Homo sapiens: one gene and its partner. The main gene of each other region encodes a partner of the protein of the gene in region 2 in a complex. Each region holds a gene or a part of one and is shown on either strand. Other genes may lie near its edges.

The links. Proteins that work in one complex are often made in the same cells at the same time.
Region 1: the proteins of SIRT5 (region 2) and PRDX1 are in contact, whole or in part, in a crystal structure (PDB 8Z54), measured with the Homo sapiens proteins. Residues at the interface, in NP_001363727.1 of Homo sapiens: Ala86, Tyr102, Arg105, Gln140, Ile142, His158, Val220, Val221, Trp222, Phe223, Gly224, Glu225, Asn226, Leu227, Leu232, Val253, Val254, Tyr255, Pro256; in NP_001189360.1 of Homo sapiens: Phe195, Ser196, Lys197, Gln198.

What each region holds. Positions count from the first base shown.
Region 1 is NC_000001.11:45,518,862-45,526,326, forward strand, and holds the start of PRDX1 (peroxiredoxin-1), read right to left. Parts: upstream 3,024-7,465; 5' UTR 2,968-3,023; exon of another isoform or gene 2,748-2,967; intron 194-2,747; 5' UTR 183-193; coding exon 77-182; intron 1-76. UniProt on the Homo sapiens protein: Thiol-specific peroxidase that catalyzes the reduction of hydrogen peroxide and organic hydroperoxides to water and alcohols, respectively.
Region 2 is NC_000006.12:13,598,592-13,605,614, reverse strand, and holds part of SIRT5 (NAD-dependent protein deacylase sirtuin-5, mitochondrial), read right to left. Parts: intron 6,586-7,023; exon of another isoform or gene 6,584-6,585; coding exon 6,460-6,583; exon of another isoform or gene 5,974-6,459; intron 4,782-5,973; coding exon 4,666-4,781; intron 4,535-4,665; coding exon of another isoform or gene 4,495-4,534; exon of another isoform or gene 3,978-4,494; intron 1,140-3,977; coding exon of another isoform or gene 1,097-1,139; exon of another isoform or gene 1-1,096. UniProt on the Homo sapiens protein: NAD-dependent lysine demalonylase, desuccinylase and deglutarylase that specifically removes malonyl, succinyl and glutaryl groups on target proteins.

The sequences.
Region 1 (7,465 bases), on a different chromosome or scaffold from region 2:
TTGACACAAATCTAACAAGCCACCCCTAGAATATAAAATAACTCCATCTCAATGAGCCCAGTGTTAATTCTCTCACCTTTGTAGTCAGACAGGCTGATATCTTTAAACTGACCATCTGGCATAACAGCTGTGGCTTTGAAGTTGGGGGCAGGGTGCCCAATTTTAGCATTTCCTGAAGACATCTTCCTATCAGCTAGAAATAACAGAAATGAATTAGAAACAAGCCTTAATTTTCTACATAACCAGCAGCCTTCACCTACTTAAAGAGACTTAGCTGTAAACAATCAAGGCATTGTCCAGTGTCCCTGAATACATTAAATGTTGTTTTAGTAAGAAGCTCCAGCCAGCAGTCAAGGGTCACAGTCTGAGCTTTCCAACTTTTGGAACGAAACAAGTCTCTGAATCTCAGCCTTTGTTTTCATTTAAAAACAGCAAGGCAATTTCTTTATATACTGAGATAACCTCTCATTCTTTCTGAACCATAATTAGTGCAGTGGCATCTTATTCATTATACAGAAGCAGAGAGAGAGGCAGATGAAGACTCTCAAACCAGAATCCAAATGCACAATGCCACAAACACTTTTGTTTGGCTCCCCAAAAGTCACGTTGACCTTTCCCATCACTGTGCCTCCACCTGCCTTCATAACATCAGAAGCATATTTGACTTTTCTCCAGGTAGCTTTGTCCAAGACAGCACACAACCTATAACTAATTCAACTTGTTTTATTTGTTTTTGTTTTGTTTTGTTTTTTTGACGGAGTTTCGCTCTTGGGGCCCAGGCTGGAATGCAATGGCATTATCTCGGCTCACTGCAACCTCCACCTCTCAGGTTCAAGGGATTCTCCTGCCTCAGCCTCCATAGTAGCTGGGATTACAGGCGCAGGCCACCACACCCGGCTAATTTTTTTGTACTTCTATTAGAGACGGGATTTCTCCATGTTGGTCAGGCTAGTCTCAAACTCCTCACCTCAGATGATTGCCCAACTCAGTCTCCCAAAATGCTGGGATTACAGGCGTGAGCCACCGCGCCCTTCCAGTCAGTCCAACTTTTAAGAGGCAAGACCACTGGGCGCAGTGTCTCACACCTGTAATCCCAGCACTTTGAGAGGCTCAGGCGGGCGGATCACCGGGTCAGGAGTTCGAGACCAGTCTGGCCAACATGGTGAAACCCCGTCTCTACTAGAAACACAAAAATTAGTCGGGCGTGGTGGTGCATGCCTGTAATCGCAACTACTCAGGAGGCTGAAGCAGGAGAATCACTTGAACCCGGGAGGCAGAGGTTGCAGTAAGCTGAGATCGCGCCACTGCACTCCAGCCTGGGCAACAGAGTGAGACTCTGTCTCCAAAAAAAAAAAAAAAAAAAAGAGGCAAGACCAAGATATTGATTGGCATCTGCTTAATTTCAAATCTTTAGGTATTGTGTAAGCCCTAGAATTCCCTTCACCATTTGTGAAGGTGGGTTCCTGACTTTGGGGCTAATATCCCAGGGCGAAAACAAGTATAAGAATCAATTTACTGCTGAAAAGGAAGGTTGCACTGGATTCACCCAGATCAACACCAAGATTAGTATTGAGATCTTGGCCAAGCGCTGTGGCTCAAGCCTGTAATCCCAGCACTTTGGGAGGCCGAGGCAGGCAGATCACCTGAGGTCAGAAGTTCGAGACCAGCCTGGCCATCATAGTGAAACCCCGTCTCTAACAAAAATACAAAAAATTAGCCGGGGGTGGTGGCACGCGCCTGCAGTCCCAGCTACTCGGGAGGCTGAGGCAGGAGAATGGCGTGAACCCGGGAGGCGGAGGCTGCAGTGAGCCGAGATCCAGCCACTGCACTCCAGCCTGGGCGACAGAGCGAGACTCCGTCTCAAAAAAAAAAAAAAAAAAAAAATACAAAAATTAGCCGGGGCTTGGTGGCACAAGCCTGTAATCCCAGCTACTCCTAAGGCTGAGGCAGAAGAATTGCTTGAATTCGGGAGACAGGGGTTGCAGTAAGCCGAGACCGCGCCACTGCACTCCAGCCTGGCCGACAGAGCGAGACTCTAGCTCAAAAAACAGAGATTTAACCCACTAAGCCGCGGTCTGAAAGCTTTTCCAAGTCCCAAAGTTCTTAGTTCACAATACCACAAGCAAAAGAAATTTTGTAAGCATGGATCTTAGCAAACTTTTAACTGTTTTTTAAAAAGTCCTTAACACCTTTAACGACAAAAAACAAAAACCAAAAACTAAGGCATGCTGCAACTTGGTGCCCCCAAATGGCCTTCTCGTCCAATCCTTCTTTCCCAAGTGGCCCCCAAGTACAAAACCCAACCAATTCGGGGTAAAGGCTGCTGGGATTCAGGCCGCCACCGGGCCCCTTCAGGGGATCTGCCCAGCGTAGAGGGCCACATCCCTAAACCCCACTTCAGGTGCCCCCTGTCCCTCCCCAGCACTGGAGAAAGCACCAGCAGAGAGAGTGCTTCAGCGGGGACATTTGGGCTCATCGCTAACTCCATTCCACGTACAGGAAAATAAAGACGGGGAAAGGGTACCCGAAGCTCCGCAGCTAGTCAAGGCTCAGGACCCGGAACAGCCAAATACATAGAGGCTGTCTTCTACAGCCACGAGTCTGGATACAGGTCCATTCCAGAAGCTTCCCGAACCCACCCCGTCCGGCAGGAGGCTAGTCTCGGAGACCCCCACCACCAGCCCGCCCAGACGCCGCGCCACGTGCTCGAGTTGCCGGGGGAAGACTCGACTCGAGTCCACGCTTGCCTTGGGGTTCAACCAGGTTCCCGCACCTACGTGGGGGGCCCACGAGAGGGGTGTGCGCAGCGCTCAAGCAGTCTCGGACTCCGGGCCTCCCCCGGCTGCCTCACGCATCACAGCACCCCCACCCGAGCGCGGGCGGGCCCCGGACAGGAGGAGGAAGAGGCAACAGGCAAGAAGGGCGCGCCGCGCCTCACTCCGCAGGGGCCGCACTGCCCACACTCACCAGTCCCAACACAAGTCGCAGAAACTAACCACCGACACCAGGCAAGAACAAGACGCGCAAGAGCTCTCCGGGGCGCTGCCTTTATAGCCAGTAGGGATCTCGCGAGAGTCGGAACGGACGGGGGTGCCGGAGGAGGAGAGAGAGGAGGGGGATGTGGCCCGAGCCCCGCCCGGCGCGCCCCGCCGGAATGACTCGGCGCTTTCCCTCGTTGGGGCGGGTGCGGAAAAATACTAATACCCCACCCTGTTGCGGATGGCTGAGGTTGGAGTGAGGCGCCCTTGTGGCCGCTCCCGAACCCGAACGCTTAGGTTAATCCTAGATCTCTGCGGAAAACCAGGATTCTCTTTACTTCCAGGACCACTACGCACTGTGCCCTCAATGCCCAAACTGGAGTAAGCGTCTTAGCTGCTGCCCACGGAGGACCACGTCTAACCACACCAAGCCATGAGAACTGTCTATCCAAATATTTCTTAAGTTCGCAGCCTTAACCCCAGCGCAGATCCTCAGTAACCCTCATGGCTTAGATAGCTTCCTTCATTGTTCTCTTTAATTACAGGGTTGCTGCTTTCTGTTGTAAAGGAAAATAAAATATCAGGACTCCTAAACTTACGCCAGAGGGAAAGTTCATCTTGGGAGGCTGATTCAGTTACACGACCATCCTCTCCCCGGATGAATAATTTGACTTTACAATCTTGAGTCAAAACATTACACATTAGCCAGACCCACACGGTAAGGCAAAAGGCCTCAGACATTTCCTGATGACTACCCCCCACAAACACACATACACAAAATCATAATTAATTATTTGCTCCCCTGGAAACCTTTAAAGTATGTAGCCTCCCATAAAACAAGGACGTGTCAATTGCAACTAGATCTACAATATAAAGTCTAGTTCCTAAAACTAAAGTTTGTTCTATTCCACATTTTTTTGAGACGGAGTCTCACTCACCCTGTCGCCCAGGCTGTAGTGCAGTGGCACGGTGTTGGCTTACTGCAACCTCCACCTCCCGGGCTCAAGCGATTCTCCCGCCTCACCTCCGGAGTGTCTGGGACTACAAGCACGCACCACCACGCCCAGCTAATTTTTTGTATTTTTAGTAGAGACGAGGTTTCATCATGTTGGCTAGGCTGGTCTCCAACGCCTGACCTCAGGTGATCCGCCCGCCTTGGCCTCCCAAAGTGCTAGGAATGTAAGCGCGAGCCACCGCACCTGGCCTCTATTCCACAAATTCCATAAATGTTCACTACTAGATTACCTTTCTACTAGACTACTTTCTACCTTTCTAGTAGTACCTTACTACTAGATTACCCTGAGTCCACCACATAATTGTTTTCTTCCTCCATTCCCTTTTTCTTCAAACATTCACCTTATCTTATGTAAAAATGTAGATTTAGGCCACCTAGGAGGGCGGATCATAAGGTCAGGAGATCGAGACCATCCTGGCCAACATGGTGAAACCCTGTCTCTGCTAAAATACAAAAACTTAGCCGAGTGTGGTGGCGCGCCTGTAGTCCTAGCTACTTGGGAGGCTGAGGCAGGGGAATCGCTTGAACCCGGAGGCAGAGGTTGCAGTGAGCCGAGAGCACCACTGCACTCCAGCCTGGCAACAGAGCAAGACTCCGTCTCAAAAAACAAAACGTAGATTTCCTGAGCATTAGCTAAAGTCTTTGCCTCAATCTTTCCCACCCCCACTTTTCAAGGAAAATGTATAAATACTAAAAACCTCCTGAGAACCTCTTGGGAAGAAACAGCCACAAAAGTGTCTGTGACATGGTTTAGTCAGTTTAGTCACTCATTTCAATTAACACTATCTCTTATCCATCCCTTCCACTGCAGCTGAAGGAAATCTTTCTGAAGTCTGATCATGTCACTGTTATTCGTGGTTTAAAAGCTGGGGAAGAAACAGCCACAAAAGTGTCTGTGACATGGTTTAGTCAGTTTAGTCACTCATTTCAATTAACACTATCTCTTATCCATCCCTTCCACTGCAGCTGAAGGAAATCTTTCTGAAGTCTGATCATGTCACTGTTATTCGTGGTTTAAAAGCTGGGGCTAAAGAAAGAAAGAAAGTAAAATTTAAAAAGAAAAGAAAAATAAAAAATAAAATAAAAGCTGAGGCTCTGTAGTCAATTTACTGAGTTAAAACTCCTCACTGTCAGGGCCGGGCGCGGTGGTTCATGTCTGTAATCCCAGCACTTTGGGAGGCTGAGGAGGGCAGATCACCTGAGGTCAGGAGTTCGAGACCAGCCTAACGTGGAGAAACCCCATCTCTACTAAAAATACAAAATTAGCCACGTGTGGTGGCGCATGTCTGTAATCCCAGCTACTCTGGAGGCTGAGGCAGGTGAATCGCTTGAATCAGGGAGGCAGAGGTTGCAGTGAGCTGAGATAGCGCCATTGCACTCCAGCCTGGGCAACAAGAGCGAAACTCTGTCTCAAAAAAAAACACACACACACAAACACAAAAACTCCTCACTGTAATTTTAGGTGTGAACTTGGGCAAGTCTTAAACTCATTAAACCTTACTTTTCTCAACTGTAAAATGGGAATAATATTAATACTTTATTGTGATTATCTATGTAGTTCAGTACAGTACTTAGTTCTTATTATAAATTAGAAATGTTAGCTGCTATTAGTATAACTCTTCCATCCTTCACACTTATAACACCCAGAACACAGTGTAGTTGTTTCAAGCCTTCAGACTTTTTTTTTTAAGATGGAATTTCGCTTTTCTTGCCCAGGCAGGAGTGCAATGGCACGACTTCTGCTCACTGCACCCTCCACCTCCAGCGTTCAAGCAATTCTCCTGCCTCAGCCTCCCAAGTAGCTGGGATTACAGGCGCCCACCACCACGCCCGGCTAATTTTTTGTATTTTTAGTAGAGACGGGGTTTCAGTATGTCAGCCAGGCTGGTCTCAAACTCCTGACCTCAGTTGATCTACCTGCCTCAGCCTCCCAAAGTGCTGGGATTACAGGAGTGAGCCACTGAGCCCGGCCGCCTTCAGACTTTTGTTTGAACCTGGAAAACTCTTTCCCTGGAGAAAACATGTCTTTCAGCATTACTTTCTCTCCGGCTGTTTCTTACCTTTACTCATTCCCAGGATTTACAATTCCCCTCCTTTGTGTCCAAACAATAGCTTGTATAGCCAAAAAAATCTTTTAAGCAATTTTAGTTTTACATTTCTTCCTCTGCCTGCTAGAGTGACTTTCTGGAGAGTAGGATGTGGGTGACATCTGTCTCTGTGTCCCCAAAGTCACAACAAAGCATCTGATATAAAATAGGAGCTCAGTCAGTGAGCATTCAATCAATAGTATCATGTTTCTGTCTCTGTCCCCAGCTCCCTCACTAACTCCCTTGGCCCTTATAGTGGGATAATGAATGAGGAAGTGCTGTCTCATGCTCATTGAGCATCTCAATTTTTGTTATTTATCATACTACTTTGCATAGACGTGATTTATTTGCTTTTTCCTTCTTTGCCTGAGGCTGAATAGTTAGTTGGCATTATTCCTTTTTTTAATTTTTATGTAACTTTTATTCTTTTTTATCAGGCAGCCACCCGAGCCAGCAGCCAGCGTAGGCTCAGAGAGACTCCCCTTTCTTTCTTGCAGGAGCAAGGGCAGCATGAAAGTTCAGAGCTTAATAATGGATGGTTATTGGCTATGGGCAGGCTAAACCAATACACAGTACATACAGTCATACTTCAGCCCAAAGAAAATTGCCACCTATTGTATTCACCATATGCCAGGCATTGGGCTGGGCACTTGAGTTTATTTTTCTAATTCAAGAACAAGGCCAGGCACGGTGGCTCATGCCTGTAATCCCAGCACTTTGGGAGGCTAAGGCGGGCAGATCACAAGGTCAGGAGTTTGAGACCAGCCTGGCCAACATGGAGAAATCCCATCTCTACTAAAAATACAAAAATTAGCTGGGTTTCGTGGTGTGCACCTGTAGTCCCAGCTACTCAGGGGGCTGAGGCAGGAGAATCTCTTGAACCCAGGAGGCGGAGGTTGCAGTGAGCCGAGATCGCGCCACTGCACTCCAGCCTGAGTGACAGAGTGAGACTCCGTCTAAAAAAAAAGAACAAAAGCCGGGCATGGTGGCTCAAGCCTGTAATCCCAGCACTTTGGGAGGCCAAGGTGGGCAGATCATGAGGTCAGTAGTTCCAGACCAGCCTGACCAACATGGTGAAAACCTGTTTCTACTAAAAATACAAAAATTAGCTGGGCGTGGTGGCAGGCACTTGCAATCCCAGCTACTCAGGAGGCTGCAGCAGGAGAATCACTTGAACCCGGGAGGCAGAGGTTTTAGTGAGCTGAGATCCCGCCACTGCACTCCAACCTGGGCAACAGAGCAAGACTCTGTCTCAAAAAAAAAAAAAAAGAAAAAAGAAAAAAAGAAAAGAAAAAAGAACTAAAAGAGAGTGGAGCACATTTGGCATGTGACTATAGTCCCAGCTACTTGGTAGGCTGAGGTGAGAGGATCACTTGAGCCCTGGA
Region 2 (7,023 bases):
AGAAATACATTCCTGTGGGAGGAGAATTCTATGCCTTTGTCACTAGATTAGAACTGGGGCAAAGAATCTGAACAACTTGTGTAAGGCCTAAGGTGTCTTGTGAGATCCAAATCCTTATTAAAATATAGGCAGCATTCTAGCTGCCTATTTAGGTAACAAAGAAAATCAGGTTAAAAGTAGCAGAGAACATTATTCCATTTTTTTTTTCTCCGTAACCTAGAGCAGGGGTTAGAAAACTTTTTCTGTAAAGGGCCACACAGGACATATTTTAGGCTTTGCAGACCAGCCAGTCTCTGTTGCAACTATTCACCTCTGTCATCCTAATGCAAAAGCAGCCACACACAATATACAAACATATGGCCACAGCTGTGTTCCAATGAAACCTTATTTACAGATACAGGTGGTGGGCAAATTTGGCCCACAGGCAGTAGTTTGCTGACCCCTGACCTAGGGTAAAGTTCAACCAAAATCTGTTAAGCACGAGATATACAATTCTGCCATTGTTAAGCTCTGTGTTTAAACAGTCCTCTCAATTGCTCCAGGGTTGGTTTCTGCCTTTGAAAAATTGAGTAGGATGAGATGACTATCACCAGCATCTCTTCTAAATGTCAGCTTTGATGATGCCAAGAAAAAAGCATTGCTGGCTTCATTGATCAGTTACTCCTTCATTGATGAGATGACAGTTCTTGTGGTCAGTCTGGTTGATAAGTAGCTTGCCAAATTGATAAGAATTTCTAACTAGCAAGTAGCCTGTTTGTTAGAGACAATCATAGGTTTTCAAGACAATATGAAGCTGAAGAATTTTGGCTGAAGTAGCAGCTGAAACAGGTCTGTGGTTTTAGGAGGCTTGACTTGAGCAGTGATATATATTACATGCCAAGAATCTCTCCTGAACTGGCAGGAAAAACCACCAAGTTCAGTTTCTTTCACATGAAGACACAGCCACCATATCCAAGGGATGCTGGGCCCCTGCTGCTCAGTCCATGGCATGGGAGGTGGGGGCCAACTCTAAACTTGGGTTGTGGAAATACTCCAGTTTTATTTTCTTCTTTTTCTCTATCTGCATTTTCTTGCTTTTCTACAATGATGACTTGTTTTAATTCTTTATAATAATTAGAGATGAGATGGAGATCAAATGACTGAAAAGAAACCACATTAGAAGAACCAAACTGGGGACATAGCTCAGGTCCTGCTTCACAAAGTTTATCCTGTCCCACTCTTCGAGTTTTCTGATGGTCTTTCAAACAGACAGGAGGCTTGAGCTGCCTAGCTCCGGTATTACTACGCTTAGTCATGCTAAGTGGCCCAGCTGCTCCACATAGGTGCCACAACACAAATCAGACGGAGGCTCAATGTGCATTTTTCAGGAGATAAGTTAGAAGATCATTTAACTTTTTATCTAACAGCTTTATTGAGATTTGATTCACATACAATCCACCTATTTCAAATATATAATTCAGTGGCTTTTAGTGTATTCACAGAATTATACAACCATCACCACAATCAACTTTAGAGCATTTTTAACAACCTCAAAGAAACTTGTTCTCATTAGCACCCACTCCCAATTCCTCCCTACTCCCAGCCAAAACAACCACTCATCTACCTTCTCTCTATTGATCTGCCTATTCTAGATATTTCGTATAAATGAAGTCATACCATATATGGTCTTTTATGACTGGCTTCTTTCACTTAGCATAACGTTTTCAAGGGTCATCCATGTAGTAGCATGTATGGATATCTCGTTCTTTTTATGGCTAAAATATAGTCCATTGTACAAACATACCAAATTTTATTTATTCATCCTTCAGTCGATGGACGTTTGGGTTGTTTCTACTTTTTCCATTAACAAGTTGCTATGAACATTTGTGTACAGATTTTTGTGTAGATGTATGATTTCATTTCTAGGACTATATACCAAGGAGTAGAATTGCTAGATCATATAGTAACCCTATATTTAAATGCCACATTGTTTTCTAAAATGACTGCGCCATTGTACATTCTCATCAGCCATGTATGAGGGTTCCAATTTCCTCACCAACACTTGTGATTTTCCTTTATCTTAAAAATTATAGCCACGCTTGTGGCTGTGAAGTGGTATCTCACTGTGGTTTTGCTACTGAACATCATTTCAATATGCTTATTGGCCATGTGTATATATTTGGAGAAATGTCTTTTCAAATATTTTGACCTGGTTTTTAATTGGATTGTCTTTTTATTATTTATAGTTGTAAGAGTTCTTTATATATCCTGGATACAAATCCCTTATCAAATATCAAATATTAGACTTACAAATATTTTCTCCGATTCTATGGGTTGTCTTTTTTTTTTTTTTTTTTTTGAGACGGAGTCTGGCTCTGTCGCCCAGGCTGGAGTGCAGTGGCGCGATCTCGGCTCACTGCAAGCTCCACCTCCCGGGTTCACGCCATTCTCCAGCCTCAGCCTCCCGAGTAGCTGGGACTACAGACGCCCACCACCACGCCCGGCTAATTTTTTGTATTTTTAGTAGAGACGGGGTTTCACCGTGTTAACCAGGATGGTCTCGATCTCCTGACCTCATGATCCACCTGCCTCGGCCTCCCAAAGTGCTGGGATTACAGGCGTGAGCCACCGCACCCGGCCTGTGGGTTGTCTTTTTACTTAATCGATGGTACCCATTGGAATACAGAAGTTTTAAATTTTGATAAAGTCCAATTTATCCATTTTTCTTATGTTACTTGCTCTTTTGGTGTCATATCTAAGAAAGCTTTAACCCAAGGTTACAAAGATTTACTCCTACATTTTCTTTTGACATTTTATACTTTTAGCTCTTACATTTAGGTCTATGATCCATTTTGGGTTATTTTTTGTAATGGTGTGACAGAGGGGTCCAAGCTTATTCTTTTGCATGTGGGTATCCAGCACTATTTCTTGAAAAAGACTGTATTTCATCAAATTGTCTTGCCACTCTTTTCAAAAATCAGTTGACCATGAATGTGAGGTTTGTTTTATTGTTCTGTTTTGTTTTGTTTTTTACTGGACTCTCAATTCTACTCCACTGATTCTATATATCTATCCTATGCCAGTGCCACACTGTCTTGATTACTGCAACTTTGTAGTAAGTTTTTTTTTTTTTTTGAGACGGAGTTTTACTCTTGTTGCCCAGGCTGGAGTGCAATGGCACAATCTCGGCTCACTGCAACCTCCCCCTCCCAGGTTCAAGCGATTCTCCTGCCTCAGCCTCCCAAGTAGCTGGGATTACAGGCATGTGCCATCATGCCTAGTTAATACATAGTAAGTTTTGAAATTGGGAAGTATGAGTTCTCCAACTTCATTTTTCATTTTGTTTTGGCTATTTTGGGTCCCTTGCATTTTCATATGAATTTTAGATTAATCTTTTCAATTAATTGCTGTCAAAAGCCAGTTGTGATTTTGATAGGGACTGAGTTGATTGAGCCCATAGATCAATTTGGGGAGCATTGCCATCTTAATCATATTAAGTTGTCCAATCCATGAACACTGGATATGTTTCCATTCATTTAGGCCTTCCTTATTTCTTTCAATAATGTTCTGTAGTTTTCAGAGTATAAGTTTTGCATAGGAGGCAATTTTTTTTTAAGGCTATCTTCTTAGTTCCTACTACTCACACACAGATGAAGAACTATGGATCAAGAACACAGGCTGTAGCTGATCAAAAAGACACATGGAAAAGAAGAGGCTCAGAGCCAGTTCACTCACTTGAGGAGGGGCCTACTGAAGTGTCTGTGGCCCCTTTTCTTTCTTTTTTCTTTTTTTTTTTTAAATCCCAGCAAAGACTTAGAAGAGTGGTTCCTATCCTGGCTGCACACAGGAATCACCTAGGAAGCTTATCAAAATGATGATGTCTGGGCTGCAACTCAGAGCAATGACATCGAAATTTCATGAGGTGGCACCCAGGCATCAGTATTTTTAAAATATGCAGCCAAGGTTGGAAACTGTTGATTAAAGTAATGACAAGATGGTTCAATGAAGTTTTCTATTTTATTCATTTATATTAATTTACTACTTATTTATATTCTAACTTATTCAAAAGGAATTAACTAGATGGACAAGAATTAGAGGTAAAAGCAAAAAAAAGTTGGGGTGAGAAAAAAGACAGAACATGGATGAAGAAATAAAACAGACCCAGGAATAAGACTAAAAATGCATACTATGACAATCTACACTTCCCACCCAAACTTGGGAAGCAGGATCAGTGTCATAATATGGCCACAGATACAAATAACCTTGGCGATTAGACCAAAGGGGTATCTGCCAGGTGGCCTCCCAGTAAGAACGGCAGGTGATGAGGTTCTGCAAGGGCATCTCCCAGGCTTACTTGCGGAGCATTTGGGTAACCTACAACTACAGGTCATCACTAAGTCTAGCTTAAAAATGTAAGGGAAAGCAAAGCCTAAGGAATCCAAGAAGAGCGTTCAAAATGTGAACAAACAAAAGTCCCACGGCAAATTTCGCATACAATGACAGAGCTACCCTACCTTAGTCTACAGTGAATGATTTTGTTCTTCCATAAAAGCAACTGCAGATCAAACAAAAAAACACAAACCCTATGTCTTTTTTAAAAATTAGAGGAGTAGGTCAACTATGTTTAGATGACCATGTCTGTACCTGCCTCCCACATCTCCCTCTCCCATCAGGGTATCCCAGTACCTGAATCTGTTCGTAGCTGGGGTGGTCTCCGTGTTAAATTCAGCCACTGGCACGCCCCTGGCAGCCACCTGGGGGGCAAACATGGCTGCTGGGTACACCACAGAGGAAGTGCCCACCTACAAGGCAAGTACACGGAGATGAACAAACAGCCAGACGACAAGGAGAAGGAACATTATTTCAGAAAACCTTACACAAACTCAGGCAGGTCTGTGGTTGCAGGTGTGAGAAAAGCCAAACAGGATGGGATAAAACAGGGTGTCCAAGGGACAAGGGAAAGTGAAGAGGTGTCCTTTGATCAATCACTAGAATCGAGAAGAATATGTGACATGAAAAGGAGAGTTATGCAAAGAGTGACATAGAAGTGACTCAATCAACATGTTTTGGGGTTAATTCTGGTTTTGTTTCTGCTTTTTAAAGTTAAACAAATGATCCATAACTTTTTAAAACATATTTTCTATCTTTTTGTTTAAGGTAGAAAATACGAAGAAAAAAACATACATATCATCCATAATCTTACCGCAAGATAACCACTGTTAACATTTTCATGTATGTCCTCTTAGGTTTTCTCTTATAAATATTTGCTTATAAACATTCTTTACAGGGATGGGAAGAGCATGACCTGTTTTGTAAACCGGCTTTTCTCATTTAACAATCCATCATCAACAGTGGCACTATACTCAACACTGGGAAGCATTCTTTAAATACTGGCTGAATGAATACGCACCACAAGAAAGTGCCTCTGCTTTTAAAGACGTGTCAAGAAAAATTTGAAATACGCATACAATCTGTCCAATGAATCCCACTTTTAGGAAATGTGTCCTAAGGAAATCATTTGAAGAGCATGCTAAGATTTCTATCTAAGGATATTCACGATATCATTGATTAAACTATCAAAATTTGAAATAGCCCAAATGTCTTACAGTAGAGAATTAGCTAAATATATCATTCCTTATCCATATATAACACCATACAGTCAATTGAAAGATGATATTGATTTAGACATATTGATATGGAACATGCTAAGTGAACTGCTGCGTGAACAAAGTAGTTTCAAAACAGAACATATGTCATGAACTCAGTTTTGAATTTTAATTAATACGTGTACATCTGCATAAGAAAAGGTTTAGACCAGAGGTGGGCAAACTTATTCTGAAAATGACCATACAGTAAATTTTTCAGGCTTTGCAGGCCATTCAATCTCTGTCACAAGTACTCAACTCTGCCACTTGTAGTTTGAAAGTAGTCATAGACAGTGTGTGGAAGAATGAGTGTGGCTGAGTTCCAATAAAACTTTATTTCCAAAAACAGGTAGCAGGCCCAATGTGGCCCAAAGGCTGCTGTTTGCTCACTCCTGGGTCTAGAAGAAAACATACTAAACTGCTAACGGTAACTATTTCTGGATAGCAGAACTATGGGCGATTTCTAATTTCCTCTTTATAATGTGATAATTTTTGCATGTTCTCAATTAAATTTAATCATAAGCATGTATTATTTAAAAAACCAATAGCATGTTCTTTTCTTTGTTTTTGGTGGGGCTGGGGGAGGAGGCTTTGAGATGCCCAAGACATGCATGGTTTCCTATTTTAATACAAATTCTTATTCATTGTTTCTCAGTTTTTCTATAGGATACCACAAAGACCTCTCAACATACATTTGAAGGAAAGGAAGAAATGGAGGGAGGAGAGAAGGCGGGAAGGAAAGAAGCAAGGGAGGGAGGAAGGAAAAGAGGAGAGGGGGAAGGAAAAAATAACAAACTCCAGTCCTGTCCTGGGGTTAGGGAAGGGCATGACCCACCACTAGACATAAATCACAGTGGGCGAGCTCTCTGTCAACCTCCTCCAGAATGGCAGGATCCAGGTTTTCTCCAAACCACACGACGTGAGGTCGCAGCAAGCCCCCGCAGCCTGCCTCTTCACACCTGGAAGAATGGGATCCTTAAGCCAACCCCGAGCCAAGTCTGCCCAGCTGGATCGGAGGGAGGCCAGGGGCTGCCCCAAACCTAGTACATCCAGATGGGTCACCTCTGATGCCTCTTATTCCCTACACCCTCCCTCCCAGCCTATATAAACTTGCCTTGCTTATGAAGCATCAGGTTTAATGGTCTTTTTTTTTTTTTTTTTTTTTGAGACGGAGTCTCACTCTGCTGCCCAGGCGGAAGTGCAATGCCATGGTCTCCGCTCACTGCAACCTCTGCCTCCCAGGTTCAAGCAATTCTGCCTCAGCCTCCCGAGCAGCTGGGACTACAGTCATGTGTGACCACACCCAGCTAATTTTCGTATTCTTAGTAGAGACATGTTTCACCACATTCGCCGGGCTGGTCTCAAACTGCTGACCTCAGGTGATCTGCCCTCCTCGGCC